Linked DNA regions of Homo sapiens. The protein of the gene in region 1 interacts with the protein of each later gene in a biochemical or structural test. Each region holds a gene or a part of one and is shown in the gene's direction. Other genes may lie near its edges. The genes, in order: KSR2 and PJA2.

Evidence for each region.
Region 2: the proteins of KSR2 (region 1) and PJA2 form a complex in vitro, tested with the Homo sapiens proteins (one study listed by BioGRID).

The regions. Positions count from the first base shown.
Region 1 is NC_000012.12:117,449,730-117,465,971, reverse strand, and holds the end of KSR2 (kinase suppressor of Ras 2), read left to right. Parts: 3' UTR 1-12,960; downstream 12,961-16,242. UniProt on the Homo sapiens protein: Location-regulated scaffold connecting MEK to RAF. Has very low protein kinase activity and can phosphorylate MAP2K1 at several Ser and Thr residues with very low efficiency (in vitro).
Region 2 is NC_000005.10:109,367,077-109,383,318, reverse strand, and holds part of PJA2 (E3 ubiquitin-protein ligase Praja-2), read left to right. Parts: intron 1-1,615; coding exon 1,616-1,816; intron 1,817-4,064; coding exon 4,065-5,115; intron 5,116-14,572; coding exon 14,573-14,758; intron 14,759-16,242.

The DNA.
Region 1 (16,242 bases):
AACCTGGGCCGGCGACTCTTCCTGACCATGTTGGGGAAGCCCCTGGTGTTCTGTATCTGTAGGAAGGATGCCGAGAGCAGGCTGGGCATGCAGATGGGAGAGGAGAACCTCTGGGTCATTTGCCCATGTTTTCAAAGCCCTGACCCCCTGCATGTGACCTGATACAAAAGGGAAATCTGTCCCCAAGCAGAGCAATAGCAGGATTATCTGGGCAGTGAACAGGAAGCCCAGGGCGGCCACAGCCCCTCTGTGTTTCCTGGGTACTACCTGGGCCTTAGTTTTCTTGTAGCTACTATCTATCCAGGCATCTCCCTCCTAGAGGGCCAGAGAGAGGAACTGGAACTTCAAAAACCCTACCTGATCTTACTTTCAAAATCCAAATAGACCTATGAGGATCTCTTCCCCACCTTGGGTGACTCCCAGACTGGTTCATGCTCTGGGGGCCAAACCTGCTTCCAAACCGGGAAGAATGGTGAGATCAGTCATGCTTCCCAGGAGCCTGGCTACAGGAAACCCCTGTGTTTCCCAAAGGGCCCTCCTGAATTGCCTTTCCAACACTCCCAGCTTACTGGGACTAGAGGACTAAAGACCCCGGCTTGGGCTGCTCCTAAGCAGACACTGCTCTTCTGGGGACATCTATGGCTCTTGGCTTGACGACGTGTGTGTGTCTTGGAGGCATTTTATATATGTTTGCCTGAGCCCCAGCCACTCTGGGGTTGCTGGGGATGGCTCTTGTCAATGGACACCTCCCCATCCCAACACAACACTCTGTGTCCCAGCCCTGGGCCTGGACTTGCACCTGTCTTGGCTCTGCCCAGCAGCCTACTGAGTGCCTGAAACCCAACCACTCACTTCTCTTCCATCACACCAGGACTTCTTGGGTCCACAGGCTCCAGTCCTTGTCATGTTCCCTTGTGCCAAGAGACAGGATATGAGGAAGGGAAGAGGCAGCCAGGGTCTACTACCCTGCAGCTGAAATGTCCACAAGAACTGGCACCTTCTCACTCTTGCCTCTCTTGTTTCCAGAATTAACTAAAATGTCCAACCACAGCCTTTGGCAAGGCCTAGCATGATCTCCAACAGCTGATTTTTCCATTCATTCATGAGCACCAGTTTGGGATTAAGGACAGGGCCTGAGTGATCCAGGGGAAAACCCAGCCCTTTGTGGAACAGGGTGCCTTGGGTCCATCCCTGAATCTGAGTCACTTGCTCTTGACTTCTCGATCTTTCCCCACTTCACTACTCTGTCCCCACCTGCATTGGTCTCTGCTGCAGCCAGGCCAGGATCCTGGCCTTCAGTGCCTTCCTGACGCCCCTACCCTGTCCCCTCTACACCGCCCTGACTTGTTGAGAAACCAGCTTTAATTTGCACACATTTAAATCCAGGAAGAACCAAACCGCTGCTTTCCCTGCTGGCTTCCATCTTTATTCGCTGATGAGGTTTTGGGAGGAGGTTATATTCATCTTACGCAGGGAGGAAAAAAAAAGAGGAAAGAGGCTGTATATTTTTACATCATAATTACCAGCCTCACCTGCAACTCATTCTATACAATGACACGACCAAGATTTGTGTGTTTGCCCTTGTCCCATCACAGCTGCACACAGGTGCCCTGTACACATAAGTCACTGACTCAGCAGCGAGTTGTTCCAGTCAGTCTTGCTTTTAGCAAACCGTCATATACATGGGCTTCCCGAGGGGACCAGTCCACAGGGTGAAGATTCACCAGGAAGCCTTGGCTTTGCAGAGAGAAACATCTCAGCTTTCTTTAAAGGGCATGTGGATTTGCACATAAATTTCACCCAACTCTTCCAGGATACAGATTATTCATAAAACCAAGGAGCTTCCTTCTTGGCCCCCTGTGGGAGGACGTGCCCCTTGTGTCCCCATCCCCAGAGCCAAGCTGGAAACCCAAAGTCATTGCTTAGATCCATTTTGTCCTGGTATTCCTTTTACTGATCAAAGAGAAAATTTTCATCTTGCCATGGACCCCCCCATCCTCACCCCATCCACTTGTCTCCACAGCTACCTTGGATTGTCAGTCAATAGAAGCCCTTGACTGATATTGACCACTAGACTTTTGTATCCAGGGAACCTAGTTCTTCCCTTTTTCTCACCTCCCATGCCATATACACACATCATGCCCCTCCCCACAAACACACGAAACCAGCCTTATCTCACCTTCCACCATTCCCATCCCCACCTACAGCTGATCATCAAAGGTACACGGAGGAAGTAGTAGACACGGAGCTCAGGCCAATCATTATCTTGAGAAATCTAAACCCAGGGCTGTCAGGCTATGCCCCATAGGCCATACCCAGCCTGCCAAATGGTTTTTACATGTTTTAATTGAGGAAAAATCAAAAGAATAATATTTCATGACATGAAAATTCTATAACATTCAAATTTCATGTCAATAAACAAAATGTTATTGGAGCACAGTCACCTCTCCATTTACACAACCACGGCTGCTCCTATGCAACTGTGACAGAGCCAGCTATTTGCAACAGAGACGATGTGGCCCACACAGTCAAAAACTTTTACAATCTGGCCCTTTCCTAACTTTGCTAGCCTTTGATAGAGAGGATTGGATATGGCTGTCAGGGGAGGAACAGGAGCCTTTGATAGAGAGGGTTGGATATGGCTCTCAGGGGAGGAACAGGAAGTTGGAGGGGGAGAGAACTTGTTTCAGCGGAAGAAGGCCAGCTTGCCCCAAGATGCAGCGGGCTGCCTCCGGAAGTAGAGAACTCCCTGTCCTTGGATAGGGTGGAGCAGATGTTGACTGCTTGGCCTGTGTGATATGGAGGCAATTCAGGCCCTGAAGGCTGGACCAACTCCCTGGACTTTAAAACTCTTCGTTTGCTAAGGGGGGCCATAATAACAAAATGTCACACACTGAGTGGCTTAAACAACACGAATTTATTCCTCACAATTCTTGAGGCTGGAAGTCCCAAGATCAAGGTGTCAGCAGGGTTGGTTTCTGGTGAGGCCTCTTTCTTTGGCTTGCAGACAGCTGCCCTCTGATCGTGACCTCACGTGGCCTTTCCTCTGTGACTGCACATCCCCAGTATCTCCTCCTCTTCTGATAAAGACAACAATCTTATTAGATTAGGGTTCCAACGCTCTGTGATTTTATTCCCATCCCCGGCTTTCTTTCCCCACACTGGTTCTCAATCTTGAGTCCCGAAATATGCCCTCCCTATCCTCATCCTGTGCCTACCTTCACTTCACCCATCCATCCCCTGCAGGCTGGTCTTGTTCCACTGTGCCACCATATCCCCAAGCCCCCCTCACCTCCGTGAGGCTCCTAGGACTGCTGCAGCAAACCACCACCCACTGGGGCCTACAACAACAGATGTATCATCTCTCACCCATCTGGATGCCAGAAGTCCAAAATCAAAGTGTTAGCAGGGCCATGTTCCCCCTGAAATCTGTAAGGGAATCCTTCCTGGCGGCTTCTGAATTCCTGGTGCTTTCCTGGTCATCATTGGCATTCCTTGGCTTGCAGCTGTGTCAGTCCAATCCCTGCCCTCATCATCTCTCTGTGTGTCCCTATCTTCATATGGCCATCTTCTTATAAGGACACGAGTCACATTGGATTAAGGGCCCACCCTATTTCAGTATGACCTCATCTTAACTAATTATATCTGCAAAGACCCTCTCTCCAAATGAAGTCTCATTCTGAGGTACTAGGAATGAGGACTTCAACATGTCTTTTTTTTTTTTTTTTTTTTTTTGTTGGGGACACCACAACTTATAACACCCTCTAAGACATTTTCTCTTGTGCCTTGACTGGTCCTCCACTGTAGAACCCAGGTGCCCTTGAAGATAGATTCCCCAGAATTCCTGGTCTACAAGGTCAGGCTGTTGCTGTCATGCTTACCAAGCTTGCCCCAATCAACACGTCCCATCACTGAATTCCAACAGCTCTGGATCTCAGTTCTGTGGCTGTATGGGAACAGCCTGTGTGTAAGTGGCTTGTCTGTAGCGGACTGTCACTTGACCCCTGAATGTGCCTCATGACCCTATCCAAAGCAGTTGGTGACACAGCATCTGATTTTATCTATACTCTTGTTCATTGACAAAGGAGTGGATTTTGATGAGCTACATTTTGCTGTTTCCTTTTTTGGCTTTGCCTGTGATGTGGGGAAGTTCCTAGGCAGACTCATGTGGCCACTCTCCCTGGCTCCCAGCCTCACCTCCTCCCGTACCACCTCACCCTCACCTGCACACACCTGCAAGGGAATCACTTTGAACTCCAAGGGGAGTGACAGGCAGCAAATGTCAGTCTGGGTCCTGGAATGTGGAGCCGCAGTGAACCTCTGTCCTCTCTGGTCAGTGCCTGACTATGATATTAACCCAAATCCCAGACTCCCTTCTCGAGGCCCTGCAATCCATACCCATTCTGTTACCAGTTTAGTTTTGAAACCAGTAGTGGGGCAGGAGGTTGATGGAAAATCTGCGGTCCCAGTGACCTCCTGGACTTGTCTTAGTAGTGCCTGGCACATAGTAAGTGCTCAAGAAATGTTTACAGAATGCAGACAGAGAGGTTTGCTGGGTAAGAGTAAGACCCTGGCACAGGGAGTTAGAAGGGCACCATTGGCAGGGCTGGATGGTATTGGGATTCCCCTTTGCCAGACCATGTTGTGGGTGCCATATCAACCCCAATGAGTTTGTTTGTTAGGTTTGTTGTTGTGGTTTAGAGTTAGAGTCTTGCTCTGTCACCCAGGCTGGAGTACAGCGTGATCATAGCTCACTGCAGCCTCGAACTCCTGGCCACAAGCAATCCTCCCACCTTAGCCTCTCAAGTTGCTGGTACTACAGGTGCACACCATCATGCCTGGCTAATTTTTTATTTGTTGTACAGACAGGGTCTTGCTATGTTGCCCGCGCTGGTCTTGAACTCCTGGTCTCAAGCAATCCCCCTGCTTCAGCCTCCCAAAGCACTGGGATTACAGGGCTAAGCCATTGTGCTGAGCCAGTTTGCCAGGTTTAATATCTGTGACGTATGAAGCGACCCATTGAGTCAGGTGGCCCAGGATGTCTAGGAGGCAGAGTAACAATCCACCCTGAACAGCCCTCATTCACAGAGCACTTACTACGTGCCAGGCTGGAATTCCTATGATGGTTTGGGGAGATCAGTAGTCTTATTCTCGTTCCAATGGGGCAACTGTGGTACAGGGACAGAAACCAGCCTCCAAATTGCAGACCCAGCATTTTAAAAACGAGTCTTTGGGCTCATCCATTCCCAGGAACCCACCTCCAGGTCAAGGGGTTCATGTCCAGCTGCTCATGGGGATGTTACAATCCCAGCCTCTGAGACTTATTGGCAACTTGGAACCAGGAAAGAGAGAGAGGAAAAGCAGGAAGTTGTGGAAGGGAGGGTGCAGGGGCTGGCAGGGACCATACTGGGAGTTTGCACGGAAGCTTGAACTTATGTTCTCAAACTGACAGGCTGCCAGCAGCAGCCCGGATTTCCAGGAAATGTACATCTGGGTTGGCAGAGTCCCTCCTGGGTCCCTCCAGTATCCCTGCTCCAGGCTTCCTATCCCCTCCGTCTCTCCTGCTGGATGTTGCACTGTGGTCCCGTGTTCCTGAGAGGCGTACATCAGTGAGTGCTCTTCCCTCTCAGGGGTGGGAAAGGGCCCTTCCTTCCCACTCATTGGGATCATGCAGCTCCCATTTCCTAACACCAAGAATATGAAGGATTCATCTCATGGGGTTGAGAATGGCTGTCCTCCTTCCACTGAGGACTGAGCTGGAGGAGATGGACTCTGTCTAGAATGTGCCTGATCTAAATAAGACCTTGTTTCCCAAGCATGTCCCATAGACCTTTCATTCCATGGAAAACTCGCCGGATTTGCATTATTGAAAGGGTCCTGGGACAAGCATGCATTGGAAATGCTTAGGTAAAATGAAACTAATTTCTTGATTGCAGGACTTATCAGAACTTTTAAGACACTATTGTGTGGTTGAATCTCTAAATGCCTGATAGGAGGCTGTTCTTCCCAAGCTTTCCCAGGCTTGTTTCTGAATCTCCAACAAGGTCAACCTCTGTGAATGAGACTTGATACCTTACCTGGTACTGAAGGAGGCAATGTCAATGTACTGGCCCACAGAAAAGAGCTGACCACTAGCATTCATAGACACTGCTAGGAGATGAGAAAGGTAGCTTAGAGCCCGATTCCATCCATGTGGACAGTGGTTCCATGAACAAGAACACCACATCTGGCTGATGGTGTCTTCCAATGGAGGGGTCAAATCTGCTGTGTGTTGGTGGCTTCTCCAACATACCATGGCTTGGAGGCCAATGTGAAAAGTATATAAGATGTAACACCCTCAGAAGGGTTAAGTTTTCACCTGAGTTTTCATCTTCAACCAAGTCATTGGGATGGTGATCTAGAAGGACCTCTAAGATCTAGAAGGATAAAGATCTGGTCCAAGGAGTACAAATATGTAATGGATCTACCACCAGTGTCCCCTGCTGTACTCTTGGCAGACATCACTAATCCATCACAGCATGCCTTCCCACTGATCACAGATGTAGCTTCAGGGCATTCGAGTTACCACTTAAGATGGATATGAGTGACCCTCCCTTATCTCACTCTTCTCCTTTCACAGAAGCAGGATCTGAGGCCCAGAGAGGGAAGCTATAATAAACTCCCCTAAGTCAGGTCCCTTCTAAGAGGCAGAGGTAGGTTTAGAACTCAGGCCTCAGAAACTTCCAGAAGCCAAGCCATTTGGGCTGTAGTTGGTGGACAGTCTATCAGCGCTCTGCAGATGTTTCTTCTCAGTTAGGGAACTTGGAAAATGCAGAAAGAAAGATTCTGTCTCTAAGACTCTGTGTATGATCCTACTCGGTAATCTGCCTGCTTGGAGAAAAATCATTTATCTTCTGGGACGGCTTCACCACAAGGCCTGAATGCTATGCCCAGTCTAGTAACAGCTGGGCTGGAAGTCACGGCATATGGGGGCCTTAAGGAATAACAGTGTGCGTGGTGGTGTGCAGGAGAGCTGCAAGGGCTTTTCTTTCTTGAGGAGGTTTGTAAAATTTCTGCTGTTCAGTCTGGGCTTCTGGGAAGTCAGGGGGTGCTGCATATAAAGGGCAGGAAAAGGAGCCTGACTCCAATTGCTCTTTGGTTTCTTCCCTGAATGGAAGGCTCAAAATCAAGTTTCCACCCAGATAAGATCTTGAGGTCCTAGTGGACCACCAGCTCTACTCCTGAGCTCTTGAAATACCTCTAATCACCAGCTCGGTGGCTGAGAGTACCTTCTTGTCCACTGCCTCTTCTTTTCCTTCTCGTCTTCACTTATCCCCCATCCAACTTCTGCCCGATAATATCTCCCCTGTATTGTAAACTGAGGAGAAAGTTGCACAATTGTAGAGATGAAAAATAGCTGCCATGTATTTAGCTTAAATTAGCTCAGAAGAAAGGCTCCCTCCCTCCATTGAGCGGGCAGCACTTGTTTATGCCAACATGCTATTTGCATCGCGCCTTCTTAAATTTGAAAGTCTAATGATTAAAAACAAATCTTAGTTTTTCTTTTCCACCACTTAAAAAAAAAAAACCAGCTTGGCTAGTTCTTCTAGTTTAAAAATACCCTGACCTCCAGCACTACAGTGAGAATTTTGGAAAGGCTGGTACCAGGATATCAGGAGGAAATAAATACAGGCCAACAATAACCAGAGGCCTTTTCTGAGTGGTGGGCGACAGGATGAACAAGGTAGAAGAGAGGTCTTTGTGTCCTCACACAGATGCTGGCATTCTGGGTTTGTCTGGAATTCAGTGAACCTCTGTCCTCTCTGACAGAGATTTCTTCACCAACCATTCATTCAGTGGGTGATTTGTTGAGCATCTACTATGTGTTAGACCCTGGGCATTCAGTGATGAGTGATACAATGTCTCACCTGTTCTGAAGCCTAAAGCCCAATGGGGAAGAGAGACAAGAAGCAAGTCAACCACAAATATATAAATTTGCAACTCATGTAGATCTATGGAAAGAAAACTCACGGGGGACCAGAAACATGGGAGAGGGTATACTGTGGGAGAGCTGCTGACAAAGGTCTTTCTGAGGAGGTGACATTTAAGTCAAGATCTAAAGGAAGAGAAGGATAAAGAGATGTTCATTCTAAGCCAGGGTTTCTCAACCTCAGTACTGTTGAGCTATTTGGGGCCAGATAATTCTTTGAGGTGGCGACTGTCCTGGGCATTGGAGGATGTTAAGCAGCTTCCTCAACTCTCCCCACAAGATACCAGTAGCACCTGGTACTGGTGACATCCAAAAACATCCCCAGACACACCCTGACTTTGCTGTCTGGAATCAATCCTCATAAAGCCCCAAGCCTTGGAGCACAGAGGCTGGAAGCCCATATGGTGGCATGTCAGGCATGGTGTCACCTGAGCTTCTCTGACCCCCACTTCTGATATGGCATCCAGTTTGGAGTCTCTGTTCTCCATGAGCTCCCATAGCTGTCCCATATTCCACAAGGCATTGCTTCTGGGCCACGGTCCTCTAGTTCCAGCATAGCCCTATTTTTGGGTATGTTGGTGGATTTCAAAAGCCTCCAGTTGACATCCAAAGTGTGACATCCAAAACCATCTCCAGACATTGCCAGATGTCCCCTGAGTTGTCTCCAGGCCACGCGACTAGGATTCAAATCCAGCATCCTGCCATCTGCAACCTTCCATGGGAGAAAGGAAATCAGAGGAGAACAGGAAAACACAAGGAGGGGACTCCTTAAGTGAACATTGCAGGGAAATAGGTTTTTAAAGCACTAGTTAGCATCACCAGTGGTTTGAAGGCTGTCTAGGTAAGGAGAATGTGGACTTGCCTTTCACCGTCTGCACGGACAGGGGCTGAAATCTCCAGTCATTCTCTCCATCCTTCCACAGCCCTTCTAAGAAGCAGATCCTCTTGCTGAGCTGAAATCTTGAGACTTGCATCCGGCAATCTTGGTGTTGCTTTCTGAGGCTACTCAGGGAAAGCCCTTCTGTATTCCCCAGGAAGGAAAGTCTCCCAGATAGTGAAGGGCCTTTTCTACCTTCCTTGCAATTCCCAGTTCACTGTGAAGAAGAGAGTCAGGCCGGGTTAGAATGGCTGTCTCTGGTAGCAATGAAGCAACAACATAGACAGTCTGGACAAGATGTGGCAGTTCTGTCCAGTCCCGTGTGACTGATTTGGGCATGGAGACAGGCAGTGGGTGAGGATGGCCTCTGTAGGTCCAGCTGTTTTACCCCTAGAATCAAATCCCTGGAGCTTCCGGCAGTCCCAGGATTGGGAAGGGTAACAGAGAGGACGAGTCGGGCACTGCAAAAGACCAGATCTTGGAAAATTGCTTTGGGAATTGGGACACCTTCCAAGAAGACAGTTGAGTTGGCTGGGGCTCTGCCCTAGATGGGGTCAACCTCTCCCCAACACAGCCCTGCCCAGGTTGGGGCATTGGCAGCTTAAGTGCGTCCTGGACAACAAATGTAATGTATTGGTCCTGTAAGATTCTAGCCATTTTCCTCTGCTTATTTTTCTACATGTGTTACAAGTAATAATGTTTAGATGGGTACATATGAACTTGTGTAAGTTCAAGTAACTGCTATGTAGCTACAGCATGGGCATCAAGGTACTCTAAGGTACTTGCCCTGCCACACCGAGGCCCCCTGCCCCGGCCCCCTTTCCCTCCTAGCCAGCCTTCTAGGGAGCACTGCACACCCTGCCCCTTCAAAGCTATCTGGACAGTCCTGGCTCGACTGGAGCATTAAGGGAGGGGCTGTCCTTGGTCAGGCTTCTGCCCAACTGTGTGATGCATAAATCTTTGCCTGGCTCCTTCTTCCTTCTTTTCGGAAGTCTATCTCCTCCTGAGGGCCTCTGCGGTCCTAACCTATCAAGGAATATCATAGATTGTACTCCCCACCCCATCAAAACACACCCTGACTTTGCGTCTGGAATCAATCCTCATAAAGCCCCAAGGCTTGGAGCACAGAGGCCAGAAGCCCATATGGTGGCATGTCAGGCATGCTGTCACATGAGCTTCTCTGACTCCACTTCCAAGATGGCATCCAATTTGGAGTCTCTGTTCTCCATGAGCTCCCATAGCTGTCCCATATTCCACAAGGCACTGCTTCTGGGCCCCGGTCCTCTAGTTTCCTCATAGCCCTATTTTTGGGTACATTGGTGGATTTCAAATGCCTACAGTTGAGCAGCCGAAGGATTCTAAGAAAATTTTGCTTGTATTTCAAAGGCTCATGTCCCCAGCCCCATTCACTACACCCTCAGCAGAGCCCAGCGTGGAGCAACCTTGTCCCTTCATTCCCCAAATCTTCATTTTATATAGTCATTTAGTAAATATTTGTTAAGTGCCTCCTGTGATTCTGGAAAAAATGGAGAAAAGTGGGTGCTGCCTTCAGGGTACTAGGAGTCCGATGAAGAGAGGGAGGAGTTCCAGTAGGGTCCCGAGGCCCCACAGGAGCTCCCAACCCAGAGAAAGACCCTCCAGGAAGGATTCTCAGAGGAGGAGACTTCTGAACCCTGTCTTGAAATTTGAGTAGAATGGTAGGGAACGGTGTGTCAGACAGAAGGAACAGCCTATGTGTGGACTCAGAGGCAAGATCATGATTTATTGAGGGTAACTGCAAGTGGCTAAAATCCTGCCCCCTGGCACTTGCCTGCCTTTCCCTGCTTTCCCCAAAGCCTGATTTTGGGACCCTGGAGTCTCCATCTCCAAACAGAGGGTGCCCTGGCTCAGATGTGGAGACCTTGACTTCTTTCCCCAGCATGCTCTGGTTCCTACTGTTAGCCTTGGTGTCCTGTGGGGGAAGATGTCTGAGGAGAGTTTTGTGCTTGCTGGAGTCAGACCAGTACTCAGGCCACCTCAGGCCTGCTCTGCATCCCTCTCTGGCTCTACAGACCTCTCTCTCTCTCTCTCTCTCTCTCTCTCTCTCTCTCTGTCTGTCTGTCTCTGTGTCTGTCTCTGTCTCTGCCTGCCTCCACACAGTGAAGGATGTGTCTCTATTTCTTAGTGCCCTGCATTGGGTCCTGAAGTCCATGGGCATCTTGGCTATAGATGGGTTGGCCATGAGCCCTTCTCTCTAATGCATTTTTCATTCCTGTTCCTCTTTTGCTTCACTTTCCCTCTATCGACTCTTGCGACCTGTGTCTCTGATGTCTCTGGGGCCCCCAGTTCTGTCTTGCCATACCAAAAAACCTTCTTCAGCAAAAAACCTCTTTCTGGGACAGTTCATATCACTCTATGAATAGGCCCCTGAAGTGTTGAGGTCAAGGACATGTGTGAACGTGGAAATGTATTTATGGAAAGACCCTACACTGAGGGTCTCTAACTAAACATTTCAGGTATGATGGGCAAAATGCTGGTTTGTTACAGAAATGACTGAAGAAGACCTAGGGGCCATAGTGGGCCACAGGCCAAGCCTGCAATACAGCCTGAAGTGTGGGAAAGAATGTATCAGTCCTGTTGATGGAGTGGTGTGTTTGCTGTCTCTATAAATATGTCAGGGTTTGAAAGACAGAAAACAAAGCATCTTTGCTGACCGCCAGACTCCCAGGGTATATGTGGCTACTGCAAATTAGCGAGGCTTGTTTATCTGCTTCAACTTGACTCAATTTGCATTTCTTGAGCCACTGTCTATTGTGGATAATGATTTCATCAACACTTTCTCAGCATCAGCAGCCCCTCCAGAGTATTCCTTGAATTTTCTTAGCTTTGTGCAACCCACGAGCACTTAATATATCACTAACCCTTGAGTTTATTGGAGGGAGTGAATGAAATAATGAATGTCAATAACGTTACGCAATACCTGGCACACAGTAGGTGCTTCATCAATGTGGCTTTTCTTCTCAATCACCCAAATGAACCTCCCCCAGAATCCCACCTCTAGGGGGACATTCCTGAAAAATAAGGGACTAGAATAGCGAGGTGGTGGGTGTTACCCATTTATTTAGATATTTGTGTCCTGGTGAACATGGGGAGGGATGCCCAAGTGTCATAAGGACACCCCCTCCCCCCGTCTACAAGGCAGAGGTCTCTTAGGATGTGAGAGAGTCTCTGGCAAGACCAGCCCCCACCCCACCAAGGCCCTCATAGAAACAGAACATTCTTCCTCCCTATCCCAAAGCAGAAGTTGACTGGGGCAGATAAGGCAAGTCACATTACATCTGTGCCCTTGACCATACCTGGACCAGGCAGAGAAGATCCCAGACTTAGGTGGTCAACGTTTCCACCCCAAGCCTCTCATTTCTCGCTCTCTTTGAGACTTGATCTTGTACCAGGATCCACTCGACAGACTTAACGCATGATTAATTTGATTGATTACTCTTGAAGTTACTGACCTTAGGAAAATTCCTCAATTGTAAAAAGGCTTTCTCTATATGTAAATTATGCTGTTATCTTTTTCTATACACAAAGTATATAGACCTATAAATATTATACATATATATTATATATATAAAGACTAATTCTTGTACAGACCAACGCGGACCGATGGTCCATATTCTTTTCTCCATGTTTGTTTGTGTCGACTGTTGCAGAGTGAGTTGATGTAAGAAGGTGGTTTCATGTTTTCTTTTGGGGGGCCACTTCTTTCTTTTCCTTTCCGTTTCTATCTCTGTCTGTCTCCGTCTCTGTCTCTCTCTTTCTCACTTGTTGCCAATGTCTTGTTGCTGAGAAGGAACACTCTATTCAGATGCCATCCAGGAAAGAAAGGCCAGATGGATGGAGGGTCCACTGTGTATATTTGTACAGAATCATTTATAAAGTTTTCTACACTTCTAAAAAAAGTATTTCTAACTTGGGCTGTTGGACAGTTTGTGTGCCTCTGAGCCAGCAAGCCTGTTGTTTCTTGTGTTTAGTGCAATGTTTAGTGAGAAACCAATGTCTGAATTATTTATGCCAATAAAAAATTTGAGAATTACTGCATTGCACTACTGCCAAGACAGGTCTGAATTCTATTGTTGTCTGTTGTACAGAAAGAAGCTTGAATTATGACATTGGCCATTGTATCAGCCAGCTATCACCACGGTAATGCTGTGTAACAAGCCTCCCCCAAACTCCATAGCTTACAACAGCTAACATTTATCCTCGTGCTCGTGGGTCTGCGATTCTAGGTTGGGTTTACCTAAGAGGCTCCTCTTTAGGCTTCAGGTCAAGTTCAAGTCAGCTCCACATGTCTCCCTGTTTCAGGGGCCAGGCTGAAGAAGAAACTCCCTGGGGCATGCTCTTCCCATGAAAGATCATCAGAACATATGAGCCAAACAAGGCTGGGCATGATGGCTTAAGCCTGTAATCCCAGCACTTGGGGAGGCTGAGGCAGGCAGATTGCTTTAGCCCAGGAGTTTGAGACCAACCTGGGCAACATGGCGAAACCTCATCTCTACAAAAAAAAAAAAAAAAATTAGCCAGGTATGGCAGCAGTCACCTGTAGTCCCAGCTACTCAGGAAGCAGAAGTGGGAGGATCACTTGAGCCTGGGAAGTTGAGGCTTCAGTGAGCCATGATTGTGCCACTGCACTTCAGCCTGGGTGACAGAGCAAGACCCTGTCTCAAAAAAAAAAAAAAAAAAAAAAAAAAGCCAACCAGCCTGTAGAGACACATTCATGACATCATCTCAAACCATATGCACTAACATTTCATTGGGTCAAGCAAGTCAAATAACTGAGCCTTTCAATAGGACAGTATTGTAAACTCCACCCAGAGTGGGAGGGGGAAGGAAGTGAATGTTTCCTGCACCGTAATCCAAGTTATCACAGTCTGGCCAAGTATTCTTCCAGCCAGCCCGGCAAAAATGCATTCTCTCCCCTAGGGACAAATGCAGAAATTCGTCCGTGAATTCGTCGTGTGAATGCAGAAATATACACGGATGTGCACACAACTACAGCTCTCCACACTGAGCATGTGATCTGTGCCCAGATTAATCCCCACAACCACACAATTCCATTTTATAGATGTGAAGGCTGGGTGCAGAGGGATGAAGTAACTGGCCCACCCCAAGTTCAGAACCCAAAACTCATAGCCCTCTTGGGGCCACACACAGCATGATGGGCTTCTAAGTACCTTGGATTTTTAAAAGCCACTTTATAAAGTGCTTTTATGAAACAAGATCTCACCTGACCTGGAAAACCAGTGAGGCTGGGACTATTCAACTCATTCGACAGCAGAATAACTGAAGATGGAGAAACAGGCTATCCGGCAAATCTGACTGGAACTCCCAGGCCCCTCCCTTGAGGAGCTGCTGCTGAGAGATGGAAGAACTGGCCTCATCTGTCCTGGTAAGTTCTTCTCAGCATGCGCTGGAAGGGAGCAGACTGACAGGCTGGAGTCTAATTCTGTTAAATAGCACTGCCATATGCAAGCTATATTGCCCTGGCCAGGTCACTTAGCTGCTCTGAGCCTCCACTGTCTCATCTGTAAATGGGCATAATTATTGTACCTGTAGTACCTACCTCCCAGCGTTATGAGGCTTAGATGAATTAACATCAGTACTTGGAGCAGTGACCAGCACCCAGTAAGTGTTCTTAAATACATGAGTTGCTAGTTTGAATATTTATTGCTAGGCTGGGCGTGGTGGTTCACACCTATAATCCCAGCACTTTGGGAGGCCGAGGCAGGTGGGTCACTTGAACTTAGGAGGAGTTCAAGACTAGCCTGAGCAACATGGTGAAACCTTGTTTCTACTAAAAATACAAAAAAATTAGCCAGGCATGGTGGTGGGTGCCTGTGGTCCCAGCTGCTTGGTAGGCTGAGGCAAGAGGATCTCTTGAGCCTGGGAGGTGGAGGTTGCAGTGAGCCAAGATCGCATCACTGCACTCCAGCCTTGGCGACAGAGTGAGACTGTCTCAAAAAAAAAAAAAAAGAAAAAAGAAAAAAGAAAAGTATGACTGTGGTTCATTTCTAACATTAGTGCCTAAGGGCAAACTCCACGGTGAGTGACCGTCTGCACCCTAGAATGCAAATCTCTGCTGAGTTAACCCAGATCTGTCTCACCCTCAATCTCTCTCTCAGAGAACAGCAATTGGTATCTAGCACTGTAAACTTTTCGACACACCTTCACAAGCATGATTTCTTCCCACTTACCACGTTCAGATGGGGTGGGTGTATGAGTTGGCCCATTTTACACAAGGGGAAACTGAGGTTGCAAAAAGTGAAAGTCTCCTACAGTATCTGCATGTCTGTCCTGGGCTATCTCACTCAGACCAGCTGGGTGACCCAACTGGGCAATGACATCAACTGTCAGAACCTCAGTTTTTTTTTACTGTAGAATTGGGATAATAACTACATTCATTTCAGAGAGTTATGGTCAGGATTAAAAGCAGGTAAAACATGTAGCACAATTCCTGGCATAAACAATCAATACACATTAGCTATTTCAAGCCCAGATCTGACATTAATCTCTGGGAGAGTGTTGACGTGGGGAGGCGGTGTGAAACAATACCAGAACCTTCCATCCTCCTCTCTCCTTTTGCAGGCATAAGAGAAGGGGAAGAGTCTTTCCTGGGGCCTGGAACTAATTGATTATCCTGGTTCTGGCTTGTGGTCTTCTGTGGCCTTGGGGTCGCCATCAATCAGGCACAGCAGGTGCTGAGCTGAGTGAGGGAAACCTTGCGAGTAATCGGAACTAAACAGCTCATTAACCTCTGTGCACAGGCTTCAGGGCAAGTGCCTGGTAACCAGAAACACAGGCACAGATGAGGTGCCTGCCCAGCTGCCTGGGTAGCAGGGACAAGGCCTCTGAAACCCCTCTAGTCCTGGACTCCTCTTCACCTTTGCCCAGAATGAGACTCTCCAGAGCCCACCCACATCTCCCATCTCCCATCATTCAGTTCCCAGGAACAGTGCTAAGCACATTACATTTGTCATCTCACTTAACCCTTACCATGGTCCCATGCAGCAAATGCTATATTGTTCTTGTTATGCAGATGAAGCTCCTGAGGCTCAGAGAGGTTAAGTGACTTGCTCAGCATCACACAGTGGGAAGTGTGGAGCCAAGATTCATACCCAGACCATTTGAATCTGGGGCCCATGCTCTGAACTGCAATTCAGTTTTTTTGTTTGTTTTGTTTTGTTTGAGACAGGGCCTCACTCTGTTGCCCAGGCTGGAGTGCCGTGGTACCATCTCAGCTCACTGCAGCCTCAACCTCCCGAGCTCAGACGATCCTCCCACCTTAGCCTCCCAGGAAGCTGGGACTACAGGTGCGTGCCACCATGCCCAGCTAATTTTGTTTATTTTTTGTAAGACAGAG
Region 2 (16,242 bases), on another chromosome or scaffold:
TCTGACCTGTGGTCTTACTAAAAGGCTGGTTTTGATCCATATATTGAATATTTGTAAAGCTTAGTTTCTAATTTTTGATAGGTAAAAATAGAAATTCTGGTATTTTCTTTCCATACCCATTTAGCTTGGAAAGCTTTATGCTTTCCACTTCGGAGACTATTCTTTTGGTAGAATTGTTAAGGGCATTGGTTCTGGAGTCATACTTTTGGATTATTAGACAAGTTATCCAACACTTAATTTTAACTTTAATTTTTCAATTTTTAAAATAGAATACAATATCCACCTCAAGATTACTGATGGGATTAAATAAGTGTAACACTTGATATTATTTATACTCGATATGTGCGTGTATTATAAATACATGTTTGTTTCTGTTTCCTTCTTGGAAGTGATTATATTTCTTATTTTAATACAACTAAGAAATTATGTAACTGTTTCATTCATTCATTTATTCATTTTTTTTTTTTTTTTGAGATGGAGTTTCGAACTGTCACCCAAGCTGGAGTGCAGTGGCACAGTCTTGGCTCACTGCAACCTCCGCCTCCTGGGTTCAAGTGATTCTCATGCCTCAGCTTCCTGAGTAGCTGGAATTATGGGCATGTGCCACCACGTCTGGCTAATTTTTGTATTTTTAGTAGAGACGGGGTTTCGCCATGTTGGCTAGGCTGATCTCGAACTCCTGGCCTCAAGTGATCCGACTGCCTCATCCTCCCAAAGTACCGGGATTACAGGCATGAGCCACCATGCCCAGCAACTGTTGCATTTATTGACTATACCATATGCTGTGAGAAAATATTTTGTTTAGTTGCTGTGTAGTACATGTAATGTATAATTGACTAAGCAGACTTACACTTAATATATATATGTGTGTGTATAATAATGTACTACTTAGTGAAAGTTGCTGCTGTTTACTACTGTATACCCCTCAGTCAACAAAACTTAATTGTCAAGTCATGTAAATGTTGATGGCTTTTCTTACCATAACATATACCATTTATTGGTAGTTTTGAAGGCAGGGTAGTATGTGTTTGACCTGGCTCATTGCTGTTTTCTTTTGGATAGTTTTATCTGACGTTAATCTTTGGAACATATTTATTGTGATCTAGTTGATTCTTCATGGTACAGATACCATTTAAAGAGGTTACTTGTTATCTTTGACATAAATGTTTTCATTCTTAAAGTAATTGAAACCATCATATCATAATGCTAGTAATTGATTCATCAAATATGTATTGAGCACTTATATTAATATAATATATAAGGTACTTAATTTGGAAGATCTCCCATAAAGAGCTTTGGCAGTATAATAATTTGGCATATGAAAAATATTTTTTGATAGGTTTCATTATAAAAATCTGAAATACCTTAAAGAAACCAAATTTTAAAACATATTTTTTGAAGGGAAAAGGCCACTAACTCTTATTATATAGTACTTCATATTTAATTTTCTAGTGTGTGAAGAATAATGTTTTATAGTACTAGTAAGGTACACTTCATGTTCAGAAGCATATGATTTGATAAATAATAAAATATAAACTGAAGTAGTTTTCCCCAACAGGTTGCAAGAATAAAGCTCATTGCTGTTCCTGTTTTAATTTTTTAACTTTTTTTTCAGCAATGGACCAAGAATCTGGTAAGGCTGTCTGGCCCAAACCAGCAGGAGGGTATCAGACAATTACAGGCAGGAGATATGGAAGAAGACATGCTTATGTCAGTTTTAAACCATGTATGACCAGACATGAAAGAAGCTTAGGTCGGGCTGGTGATGACTATGAAGTGTTGGAACTAGATGATGTTCCAAAGGAAAATTCCTCAGGTGTGTAACATTTAATTATTTAAAGGTTATTAATAGTTATATAGGAATTGATCTTATAATTAAATTTTTGGGTGGGTATTATGCATGTCTGTGAGTGTAAATGCAGCACACTTCCTATCAAGAAATTCTATTTTGAAATTCTTATTGAATTTAATATTAATGGTGTATATATTTAAACATTGTAGAAGAAAATAGAATACAGCCAATCATTAAAATATAACCACACTCTCATAGTAGTGATTACGTTGTCATAACCTCCAGCCAAAGGAAATCATCTTTGAATCAAAAAGATATATTTTGAAATTTTTAAAAATGTGGATCAAGTAGAGATATTTTTTCCCTGCATATAATATTTAAATAACTTTTCTTCTTCTTCTTTTTTTTTTTTTGAGATGGAGTCACGTTCTGTTGCCCAGGATGGACTGCAGTAGTGCATCTTGGCTGACTGCAACCTCCATCTCCCAGGTTCAAACAATTCTTGTGCCTCAGCCTCCTTAGTAGCTGGGATTACAGGTGTTTGTCACTGCACCCAGCTAATTTTTGTATTTTTAGTAGAGACAGGGTTTCACCACGTTGGCCAGGCTGATCTCAAACTCCTGACCTCTCAAGTGATCCACCTGTCTTGGCTGGCTTCCCAAAGTGCTGGGATTACAGGTGTGAGTCACCATGCCTGGCGTTCTTTTTTTTTTTTTTTTTTTGAGATGGAATCTTACTTTGTCATCCAGGCTGGTGTGCAGTGACGTGATCTGGGCTCCCTGCAGCCTCCACCTCCTGGGTTCAAGTGGTTCTCCTGCCTCAGCCTCCCAAGTAGCTGGGACTACAGGCATGCGCCTCCACGCCTAATTTTTGTATTTTTTGGTAGAGATGGGGTTTTGCCATGTTGCCCAGGCTGGTCTCGAACTCCTGACCTCAAGTGGTCCGTCCAACTCAGCCTCCCAAAGTGCTGGGATTACAGACATGGGCCATTGTGCCCGGCCAACTTTTCTTCTTTTAATTTTATCCTAAATTTAACTTGGCTTGTTTATTTTTTCATCATTTTACAAAATCCAAAGGACAAGGAAGGCTTATTCAATTAAAATTTCTTAGTTATTCAATGGTTTTGAAAAAGTATTTTGCAGCTATCCATGTACCATAATTGCACATTTTTGGACTGGATTTGTCTTCTTCCTCTTGTTCTAAGCAAACTTGACAAGACATTTCTAGATTATTTTTGCTGTCATATGTAAGAATCTGAATTACTAGCTAGGGTCATCCCATTGAAGAACCCTTCGTTCCCAGCTACTTGGGAGGCTGAGGCAGGAGAATGGTGTGAACCTGGGAGGCGGAGCTTGCAGTGAGCCGAGATCATGCCACTGCACTCCAGCCTGGGCCACAGAGCAAGACTCCGTCTCAAAAAAAAAAAAAAAAAAAAAAAAAGAACCCTTCGTACCATATATCAAAGAACCCTTCGTACCATATATCATGGCCGAACTTCAGTTATTTTACAATTCATGAATTTTTATTCCAGCAAATCTCAAATGTCTTCATTTTTTTTATTAGTGGTGATGCAAGATAGTTATGCTTAAAGTAATTTATAGATATGATTTTACTCATGTTTCAGAATTCTCACAATTATGACAAGAATCAACATATTGATCTCTTTGTTGTTTTTCAGTCATAACTATAACACATCTAAAGTAAACTTATTACAAATGTATTACAACAATTCAATTTATAATCTGTCGAGATACTGAGATATAATTTTGTGAATTGCCAACAAAACACAATAGGGTCTAATTTCTCTTAAATCTGTAACTATAGTTATTATATCTGTCATAAGTACTTTTGAAGGTTTTTTGTTTTGTTGTTGTTTTTACCTGCATATAATAAAGAAGGTAAGTTTGGAAATCACTGGGAAGCAGATTGGTTACCCTAGACTCCACTTACGAGAGGCTTCCCATTGTATAACCTCTCAAGAGCTTCTCCTTTATATGTCTTGCAGAAGGCATTAGATATTAGGATTTAGATAGAAAACTGCCAAAGCCATGTGAGGGAGATGATAGTGAAAGGCTGTACATTGACATAAATGAACTCATAGAGTAATCAGTCTGCATTCTCAGTTAAGGAGCATAGAAGTGCTTGGTAAATAAATTTACTCATGTATTCAAGTAGTAATAATTGGTATGATTTCCACTTAAGTGATAGTTATTACATAAAATTTTATCTAAGTTAATCCTTTAAAATATGTTTTCTTTTGTTTTTTATGAAGGTTCCAGTCCTTTGGATCAAGTTGATTCTTCTTTACCCAGTGAACCTATATTTGAAAAAAGTGAAACAGAAATTCCCACTTGTGGTTCAGCATTGAATCAAACCACTGAGAGCAGTCAATCCTTTGTTGCAGTACATCACAGTGAGGAAGGCAGGGATACCTTAGGAAGCAGTACAAATCTTCATAATCACTCTGAGGGAGAGTATATTCCAGGAGCTTGTAGTGCTTCAAGTGTCCAAAATGGAATTGCATTGGTTCATACAGACTCTTATGATCCAGATGGCAAACATGGAGAAGATAATGACCATCTTCAACTTTCTGCAGAAGTCGTGGAAGGTAGTAGATACCAGGAATCATTAGGCAATACAGTATTTGAGTTGGAAAACAGAGAGGCAGAGGCATACACTGGTCTTTCACCACCAGTTCCCTCATTTAACTGTGAAGTAAGAGATGAGTTTGAAGAGTTAGATTCTGTACCATTAGTGAAAAGTTCTGCTGGTGATACTGAGTTTGTCCATCAGAATAGCCAGGAAATTCAGAGGTCTTCTCAAGATGAAATGGTTAGTACGAAACAACAAAATAATACTAGCCAGGAAAGACAGACAGAACATTCACCTGAAGATGCAGCCTGTGGTCCAGGGCATATTTGTAGTGAACAAAATACCAATGATAGGGAAAAGAACCATGGAAGTTCTCCTGAACAGGTAGTGAGGCCAAAAGTTAGAAAACTGATAAGTTCAAGCCAGGTGGACCAAGAAACAGGTTTTAATAGGCATGAGGCGAAACAAAGAAGTGTTCAAAGATGGAGAGAGGCTTTGGAAGTTGAGGAAAGTGGCTCAGATGACCTCTTAATAAAATGTGAAGAATATGATGGAGAGCATGACTGTATGTTCTTGGATCCACCATACTCAAGAGTTATTACACAAAGGGAAACAGAAAATAACCAAATGACATCAGAAAGTGGAGCCACAGCAGGAAGGCAAGAGGTGGATAACACCTTTTGGAATGGCTGTGGAGATTATTACCAACTCTATGACAAAGATGAAGATAGGTAAGGTCACATCCAGTACTTTTTCCGATTGTGTAGTAAATGAAGTGGTTTCTTTCTAGAACCATGTTTGATGGCTGGGCTATTTGATATGATCAGGGAATTAGACATTTTGACTTACCAAATATTTTTATTTACTGAATGCTAACCATACATGCAAACTACTCATTAGAATTTTTCACAAAAAAATGTTTTTGAGGTTTTTAGTAGTTTACAGAAGTAAGTTCAGATAATGATTATTATTATAAAGGGATAGAGATGCTAGTTCATGGTATTTCAATTAATAAAATGTAAAATAAACATTTGTTGTATTTTTTAAAAACCTACATTAAGCCAGTCTGGGTTTAAAAAGTGATTAATATCACAAATTATTGATTGGTAATACTTCATTAACATTGCCAGTAGTGACTAATATCACTTGTTTCCCTCTTTATCTGTTCTTCCTGTGGCTCTTCCTATCACTAAGTTTATTTTTTACTTATTTTTTCTTAGCATTCAATTCTCATTAACAACTCTGTGTGGTAGATTCCATTATTTCCCTCATTTGTAAATAAGGAAACTGAGGCACAGAGCATTATATAACTTCCTAAGGTCACAGAGCAACTTAATGGTAGAGCTGGACTTTGAGTACCTAACTGGGTATTCCAGAGACTGTTCACCACTATTCTTTGCTATTTTCAACAGAACATAAAACTTATAATAAGCATTCTGATTGCTCTTACAAACCCGTATCTTTTTTTTCCAAACCATAAGACAACAGAAAAAGAAAAAAATGGAGAATTTCTTTGTTCAGTTGCTGAATTTCCATTACCCCAGTGTCCAGATTTTCATGAGTCCTTGTAAGCTAGTTGCATCCCTGACAGTGCTCAATTACAGTGCAATTGCAAGATTTTATTAGCTAGTGGAAATAATTGTGTGGTTTTTTTTTAGTTAGAAAGTACTATAAAGGAAGAAATTTACCATTTTGAATATGAATGCATTTTAATTCATGTCATAAAACAATTCATTTGATTTTCTTTGGACATATGAATTAAGCTACTATAATACAGATTGTGTAATTTATTATAGAAAATATTTAAAATATAATTTCTGCTGCTCTGTCAAAGTCTGTAAACTTTAAGGGTTAGTAAGTAATTTTTGTATGATATACTGTTTTTAAGCTAAAGGTAAAGTTTTTTTCAGTTCAAGCCCACAGTGTTTTATTCAGTATCCACACTTCTAAAAACAGAAATTGGCCACAAAGCCTGACCTGATGTTAACTTCCTGGATAAGCAGATCTGGATCTGAATTGAAATGAGGGTATTTTTTCAAATATTTGTATATTTTACTGCAGAAATATAGTTATGTTTGATTACTGTGTGTGGCCTGGACCATGTTGGGGTTTGTTAAGTAGTAGTTCTAAATCTGGGAAATATATATCAAAATTCCAAAACACATTTAGCCCTAAGATTTTGAAATAGATTGCAAGTCTCTAATATTATACCTCTAGGTTACTATTTTTAAAAAAAGACAAAACTTACAGTCTTTGATAATTTATTTTTTTGAAAGTGTAAGGTGCTTGTATTTTTTTTCCCCCAGTTACACTTTTTCTTCTTTAAGGAGAATCATTTAATTTGGCTATACCTTTGTCATTTTGGGCAAAATAAATACTTCTCTTCTGCTTGCTTTTTATAGTCAGTTATAATGTCTTATGATGAAGTTGATGAAATTGTTACATTGTTTGCCAACCCCTAGAGAAAGGTAGTCTTCCTGGCTCCTTGATTTTAAATTGATTTTCTTTGTTTTGGGGGTGGTCAGTGGTGGAAGTGTATTCTTTGCCTTGAAGGACCCTGGACTTTTCATAGTTATAAGGTATTTTCTTAGTTATTTGTAATTCTTATTCTTATTTTTAATTTTTTTCTTAAGTGATGTCAATATTCTGAACAATGATAGTTTTTTTTTTTTTTTTTTACAAACAATATATAGATGGGAAAAAACATTTACAGTTAATAGAAACTGTCCTTTTAAATTGCTAGTAATGTATTGACTACAGAGCCTGTGGTTAGGGTATGCCAAAATGATGGAACTACTTTAGGATCATTGTTTAAGACACATTGAAATGCTTAAAAGTTTCTTGTTTCGTTTTGTTTTAAAGAATCATAGAATAAATTCTAAAGGATAATGGTTCTGCCTAGGACTGTACTTATATTTTTATCCATAGCCTTAAGATATGTTTTACGATCTCAAAGTGTCTGTACAGTTTTCTGTACAGATTATTCTATTTCTGAACAGAAACTCTGTTTCTATGCTGCTGTGTCCTGTTCCTCTACCCTAATTCCCTGCAAAGGATTATAGTTGCCAGGGTGCCTTTTTAATATGGTGCCAGCTAAAGGTTGGAATTTAATAGCTGTACACTCCTATTTAGTTTCATTTTGCCCTTGTTCATCTCCCTGATGTTTCATTGTCATCCTCCCTAGTTCTTGTATTTGTAGATTGGAGAGATGGTGATGCTAGTCTTCTCAGGTTTTGGATGGAAAGTATAAGAGCTGCTGCTTAATTTGGGCCTGTGAACTTTGAGTTTTTTTGTAAAGCTTAAAAAGTTGATATACTTGAAAAGTTTTTTTTTGTCATGCTTATAATAGCCAAAGTAGAACTCATCAAGAATATAACTAAAGTTCATTGTGGCATTTTTATTTTTTTATTTTTTATTTATTTATTTCGAGACAGAGTTTCTCTCTGTTGCCCAGGCTGGAGTGCAGTGGCGTGATCTCGGCTCGCTGCAACCTCTGCCTCCTAGGTTCAAGTGATTCTTCTGCCTCAGCCTTCTGAATAACTGGGACCACAGGCATGCCATCATGCCCAGCTAATTTTTGTATTTTTAGTAGAGATGGGGTTTCACCATGTTGGTCATGCTGGTCTTGAACCTGTGACCTCAAGTGATCCACCCGCCTCAGCCTCCCAGAGTGTCAAGATTACAGGCGTGAGCCACTGCACCCGGCCAGCATTTTTAGATATAGGAATTTTGGCTACTTTTTAAAAATATGAATTATATATTCTTTTTAAGTAGAAAAGTATTTTAATGAATTCATGATTGCCTTCTTCCCTGAAAAATTCTAAATGATCATTTAATCACATCTGAAATGTTACACTCTGTGGGATAAACATTGCAGCCAGTAGCATTGCTCTGAGCTGTTTGACAGGTACTGAGCACCACCTTATTAAATTAGGATTCCAAGGGGAATTTTAATAGGCAGCATATAATTACCAGACTTAGAATTAGACCAAAGAGCTAAGGTTAATACCCTGCTCTTTTGAAATATACCCTGAGAAGTTTAGTAACTGTTTGAGGACAAGATCTTGAGTTTAAAAAAAACCTTTCAGCAATACTAGCATATCTTAACCTTGGGCCTAACTGCTCTGAAGAGAGGCATGCCATCTACTGTCTGTTCCTTACTTATAGCATTTGAGGTTTCTTGCAGAATTTTTGTGGCCTTAGGACTTAACTTTGCTTAAAATTTAAAAACCTTACTTAAGGTAAAATGTTGGGACAACTTACTTTGTTGATGATGTTGGGAAATAAAATGATTGTTAGCCATTTAGTTGACTTCAATATGATATATTAAAGGATTTGTTGAAATCTTAAGTGCCAGACTTTGTTCCAGGTGCCCTGTTAATACAAATCATAATGGTCCCTGTTCCCACAAGGTTCACTAGCTTTATGAAGAAGACAAAATATACGTATTTATTATTGTGAGGCTGAATTAAGCGCCTTTCCTGTTCCGTGTAGGTTACCTGAGAGCCACAAAGAAAGAGTTTGTCTGAGAACTTGGTACTACCCCCAACAAATAAAACATCTATATGCAGCCAAGGCACAGATCTTAAAGCATATGTGCTGACATTTTAGCAAACCTTTTTATCTTGTTTTCAAGTTCATAGAAGTTTGGAAGGAGCACATTAGGTATAAATGTGTTTGTTCTGCAGATATGCTAGGGAGTTCATGGGATTACAATAACCTGATACTAAGGAAAAAGACCAGAAAGTGACAAAAAGCAGGCACAATGCAAAAATCATAGCCATCTTAATGAAATTAAGCAGACTTATATATTTGGACATAATCCATTCATATCACTGTATTACATTACAGTTCAGTGTTAATAGTGGTAAAAAGTTCCAGAATGTTTAGATTATGTCAGATAACAAAATATTTAAAATTTCACTTTTTCCTAGGCTCCTGTAGTTGAGTTTCTTGTGGCTGTGATAAATGCCAGGAAGAACAAAGTAACAAGTACCTTGGGGAATTATGGAATGAGAGATTACTTTTGGTTGGTTTTATGTTTCCATAGCTTATTTCTGCCTAGGATTTGTACATAAATTTTGTCTATAATTTCATTCTGTATATCAAGTTTTTTTAGTTCACAATTGAATGTGTAGAGTGTAACATTTGAGTAAATTATAGTTGTCTGCTTTTTAAATACAACTCTTAGGTGCTAAAAGGGATCAGTACCAGTGAAGGATCATATGAAGATCAAAGTAGTACTTAATTTAGTTTTTACTTTGAGAACTTTTAAATGTGTCATTCACCCGCTTTTAAAATCTAGAACAAATGGATCTTCACTGTTCCATGATCATTTTTGTGTCCTATTTGTTCTGTTGCTTACTCCTTAAAAAGTGATTTTTAAATCTTTTCCCTTTTTTCCTTCCATGTACTCCTGTCACTCCTAATGGTTAGCTTCGTTTCTTATTTTCCTGTAGAAGTTAAAAATATGTAAATGTGAATTTTCTTATTTTCCTCTTCTCCATATTAGGGGATAGTAGTATTTATTTGTATTTTTAATTTCCTCTTCAATGAAGAGAGGTAGCCCCTCTCATTCTGTGCCTCTAGTTATTTCTGACACTTCATCTAATTGTCCTTACTCACAGGTTGCTTCCCTCTGTCTCTCAACCTTGAGTTTTTCTCAATCTTGAAGAAAACCTTTACTTTTTCTTGCTCTGTTATTTGCCTGTTTGTGTTTTCTTTTCTACTGCTGAATTTTAAGAAAAAGTTTTCCATACCCACTGTCTCTATTCTGTCACTATCCACTCTTCTTACTGCCTTGAAATCTAATTCCTAATATTATTTCTGTATTCTTTTTTATTGAGACAGTCTCGCTTTGTCACCTAGGCTGGAGTGCAGCGGTGCAATCTCAGCTCACTGCAACCTCCACCTCCTGGGTTCAAGCAATTCTCCTGCCTCAGCCTCCTGAGTAGCTGGGACTACAGGTGTGCACCACCATGCCTGGCTAATTTTTTTTTCTTTCTTTCTTTTTTTTTTTTTTTTTTTTTGAGACGGAGTGTTGCTCTAGTTGCCAAGGCTGGAGTGCAATGGTACCATCTTGGCTCACCACAACCTCCACCTCCCAGGTTCAAGCGATTCTCCTGCCTCAGCCTCCTGAGTAGCTGGGATTACAGGCATGCGCCACCACACCCAGCTAATTTTGTATTTTTAGTAGAGACCAGTTTTCTCCATGTTGCTTAGGCTGGTCTCGAGCTCCCGACCTCAGGTGATTCACCTGCCTCAACCTCCCAAAGTGCTGGGATTACAGGCATGAGCCACTGCACCCGGCCCTATATTCTTTAATGTCAGTGGTGACCTCCTGATTTCCACATCCATTTGTCTTTTCTCAGTACCCATTTTCTTTGATTTCTCTGCACTATTATGAAAAATAATTGCAATGTTAAAGAAGCAGCTGTGTTGTAGTGAGCTGCACTGAGTAAACAAGAAGTCTAGTTCATGAAATAATTGAAAAACAAAAGAAGCGATTTTATACAGGAAGGTCTTGAAAGAAATAGAGTCTGATCTGTGTTTGGAAGTGGGGAAAAGGTGAAGTGATTATAAAGATATTCCTGATGGCAAGAATGCCCACTTTGAGGACACTGTTTGAAATAGAGCATTCTTGAGTTGGATGCAAGAAAGTACTGGGATCAGATAGCAGTAAATTATAAGTGTTATTCAAAGACATTTAACTTTTTATTCTATAGGTCACTATTTCCAAAGTGGGTAAAATATATTAAGTGGTACACAATGTTTTTAATTTAATCATTATGTATTTATGTTAATGGAAATTAAGAAAATATAGGTAGCACATCAAATTCAGGACTTAATGGCTATTGCTTATCCTAACTAAATGTATTTGAGTTTAAAAAAATGTTAAAAAAAGACTCGCTAACAGTTATTGATGGCTCATTATTTATCAGGCATTGTGAAAATGTTTTATATATATTAACTCACTTACCCTTTACATGAACCCAGTGAACTATTAAATACTGTTGTTGTATTCACCTGATATGTGAGGCTAAAAAGGCATAGAGAGGTTTTCATAGCTAATAAGTGGTGGGTTTAACTCCAGGCAAGCTGACCAGGACCTGTATTCTCAACTATCGTACCTTAAGACAGAGGGTTAATGTGCAACTGCAGCAAAAATTGTGAGAGTGATAGGCAAATGGCTTGTTTGTGAAACTAAAGCAGTAGCATTAGAAAAAAGAGCTGTTGAAGGTTTTTTGGAGTAATACTATAAACATACTGTTTGATATGTAAATTGAAGTGATGGTAGTATTCAGAATGCATTTTGAGGGAGTGGAATTAAATTTAGGAACACCAATTAATAATTGACTATATAGGTCTAATTTGGAGAAAAGCATTTGAACTAGGGTTTTACATTTTAGGAGAAACGGAGAAAAAGGAGCTAAGACTACAAGAGCCATTGTGCAGAGAAAGAATGGAAAGTAAGAAAGGATTTGAATGTGGGGAGTTTGTGAAGAGTCAAAAAATAAGTGTTTGCAGAATGAGAGCATGGTGATAGCATTAAAAGATAACAAATCAAGATAGGGATTCATCTGACAGATTAATTTTATAATAGAATTTTTGACAAGGAAGGTGAAAAATCTTAAAATGCTTAGAGGGTAGTTAGTGATTGCGAAAGCTTAGTGTGATGGTTGGGGCTGGCTGGGGATATGCATTTAAAAGTTGTCTCCTTAGCATTGAGGGTTAGGTATCATGAGTAATAATGATATAGGCGTGGGGTCTGCAAACCTTTTCTTAAAGGAGCTGATGGTAAATATTTTAGGCTTTGGTGACTAAGAGGCAAAATTAAAGATAAACATGTAAAAACCATTTTTAGCTCACACACCATTAAAAAACAGGCAGCAGAGTCAGGTTTGAACCCAAGCCTGTAGTAGTTTGCCAATCCATAACATAGGCTTCTTGATTATTGATCATAGACATTCCTCTTGTATTGAAGTTTAGAGATATTCCATGAGTTATTTGATTAATATGGAAAAGTGAGGACTTTTTAATGTTATCTCTTTGGACAGGATCATATTCTGAGTGAAAATTTTTTTTTAAAAACTGAGCTTCTCTTTTATATATGTTAAGAATTGCCACAAATTTATATAGAAATCTTACCCTAATTGTTAAAGACATTAAAATAGGAGTTGGTAATTTAGCTTTGAATTTTAGAAGGTTCTTACTCAAGGAAACTTAGGTCAATAAGCTCCTTTAAAACTACTTTCTGTGTTGGATTTTAATACTTATATAAGTCTAGAAATTGTTTATATTAGATTATTCTTTGGGTCACAGAAAATTGTACAGCATACAAGGAACTTTGGCTTAGACCCAGCTGAAAGAACACCTTTTAGTTGCTGTGCCTAGGGTTTATAGCTTTCCTTCTCCGGGATGTTAATGCCCTGCCATCCATTGCTTACTGGAAATTGGCAGTTGATTTTATATCTTTGCTTCTAGTAAACTTCTCAGAGCTTAGATTAGTGCTACTGTTTGTTAATATCATCTTGATCTTTTGAGTGCATCTGTTAATAAAGGAAATCACTAACTGCGTATTGACATAATAATCATCATTAAAAAATGTAATTTCCTACCAATTATCACTTCCTTTCAAAAATGTAAACTAAAATTGTTATTTTTGATTTTCCAAGTCTAGTGAACGTAGAGAGATCTTTGAGGAGATTCTTAACCAAAATGGTTGATATGGTTGGAGGGGGCATTTAAGACTTATTTTCAACATTGATAAGTAATATTTTAGCCTTTGGTAGCATAAGAGGACTAATTCTTTAAAAACTAAGAGTAGTTAATTGTAACCAAGTTGGCTAAATGTAATCAAAAGTAATTTTCTGTGCTGCTTTTTTTTTTTTTTTTTTTTTTTGAGAGGGAGTTTCACTCCTGTTGCCCAGGCTGGAGTGCGATGGCACAATCTCTGCTCACTGCAACCTCCACCTCCCAAGTTCAAGCTGAACTCCTGCCTCAGCCTCCCAAGTAGCTGGGATTACAGGCGTGCAGCGCCACGCCCAGCTAATTTTGTATTTTTAGTAGAGATGGAGTTTCTCTATGTTGGTCAGGCTGCTCTCGAACTCCCGACCTCAGGTGATCTGCCCACCTCAGCCTCCCAAAGTGCTGGGATTTATAGGTGTGAGCCACCATGCCCGGCCTGAACTGAAATTTATTTTGTATTCACAGTGCTACCTAAGGACAGTAAAGTTTTGCCAGTACTGCTTTTTATGCATTTGAATGTCACTTCTTGAAAAGTTCTTTGGGAAAAAGGAAGGAAAAAGACAGTTAACTTTTTATTACATGGTAATAGTAGAAATTTATTCATAGAAAATATGTCATTAGTTGTCAGTATATAATTTGAAAGTTGTTTTAGTCATGTTAGATATGCAGTAAGTCTACTTACATTTATTCCAGGTAGCATTTAAGATTACCAAATTGTATTTAAAAATTTATTTAGAAATGTGTCTAAAATATGACAAGCCCCTATCTAGGTACCATGGATGTAGTGTAAGAAAAAGTAAAGTGATATATTCCATAACTTGCCATATGCCATATTCTTTTCAAAGAGTCACACTCTACTGCATGCATTTATTTGTTTAATAGTCTGAAGATTGAATTAGCACCTGACAAAGCATATGTGGCATCGACACTCCACTCTATACTATGATGTCTGGTGTATTAGTTCATCCTTGCATTGCTATAAACAAACACCTGAGACTGGGTAATTTATAAAGAAAAGAGGTTTAATTGGTTCATAGTTCAGCAGGCTGTACAGGAAGCATAGTGGCTTCTGCTTCTTGGGGGTGCCTCAGGAAGCTTCCAATCATGGTGGAATGCAGAGCAGGAACAAGGCTTCTCACTTGGCAGGAGCAGGTGTAAGAAAGAATGAGGGGGGAGGTGCCACACACTTTTAAACAACCAGATCTGGTGAAAACTCAGTATCACAAGAACAGTACCAAGGGGATAATGCTAAACTCTTATGAAGGATACACCCCCATGATGCAGTCACCTCCCACCAGGCCCCATCTCCAACATTTTGGATTACAGTTCAACATGAGATTTGGTGGGGACACAGATCCAAACCATATCATCTAGTTAACACCCCAAATGATAAAAATAACTGAACACATTATGATAGTTTATTTCTCTTCTGATTTGCAGTTCTGAATGCAGTGATGGGGAATGGTCTGCTTCTTTGCCTCATCGATTTTCTGGTACAGAAAAAGATCAATCCTCAAGTGATGAAAGCTGGGAGACTCTGCCAGGAAAAGATGAGAATGAACCTGAGCTACAAAGTGATAGCAGTGGCCCTGAAGAAGAAAACCAAGAATTATCTCTTCAGGAAGGGTATGTTCAACAGTGAGATTTATTTTTCTGTATATTGTACAAGAGTGGTATATTTTACATTCAAATGTTGGATATGCCATTAATTGTATTTATAAGCCTTATGTAGAACCAGTAGGCCCCCCTGATTTTTTCATTATGCTTTTGGTATTTTAAAAAGAACAATTAAGTTGAAAATACTGATAATTTCAGTATCGTTTATGGAGATACAATATATGTCTCCACTTGGCTTTAATAAGAAAAGTTGGGCACCTAAAATGTCATTTTGGTTAAGTTAGGAATGGGTGAATTAGCACTGTCATTGCTCAAGGGAGAAAGGACAGCCTCAAGAGGGAAATCAGTGATTCATTCACAGAAATGGAGACAGTTAGTTGCAAAAGCTAGTGTTCATATTCTTGTCTAATTGCATTGGATGAGATCTCCAAAATATCAGTGATTGATGATAAACATTTTTGTTCTTTCCTCATTTTAATGGGAAAGCTCTAGTACTGTAAGGGTTGTCAAACATACCATGAAGGGCTAGATAATAAATATTTATGGCTTTGTGTCCAGTCTTTGTTGCAGCTACTCACCTCTACTGTTGCAGTATAAAAGTAGCCATAGACAAGATGTAAATGAATGGGTATAGCTGTCTTCCAACCTTTTACTATTTTATGGGTTTCTAGCAAGAATGTTTGTTGAATTTTATGAAAGTCTTTTCAGCATCAATGGAAGTGATCATGATGGTTTTTTACTTTTGCCCTGATCATGAAGAATTGTTCTATAATTAGATTTGCTAATATTCAACTTCCCTTGCTCCTTGAAATAAACCAAATCTGATCACAGTCATGGTTTATTGTTATTTTAATGGGCTGCTGGATTCTAATATTTTACATGGGATTTTTATAATGAGATTCCTAGATGCAAATTGTCTTTTAGTTTTTTGTTTCAATATCAGTTTGGTACTTGCTTTGCTAAAAAGATGTGTATTCTTTTTCTTTTTTTGTCCTTGCATCTGTTGCTTAAATAGCTTATTTATTCCTTTAAAGTTTGTTAGTATTCCCTTGTGAAACCATCTAGGCCTCTTGTTTTATTGTAGAATATCTTTTTGATAATTTAATTTTTTTCTATGATAATTGGTTCTAATTCTTAGTCTCATGGGAACTATTTTGGTAAATTATGTTTTTTTTTAGGAAAAGAACTTTTTCAGTGTAGACTAATATTAAAACTTGTACTTCTCAAAGCATATACATTTTCAGCTTGAGATTAATCCTATAAGAAAATCTAGGAATAAAATATATAGAAAAATCTATAAAGAAAGAAATTCACAAACATAATTGGTTTCAACAGTGGTAGGTTGAGGTGGCATTTTTTTCCTCTTCATGAGAGAGATATATATATCATAAATATACATCATAGATATATATATATATATATATATTTTTTTTTTTGAGACGGAGTCTTGCTCTCTGTTGCCCAGGCTGGAGTGCAGTGGTACGATCTCGGCT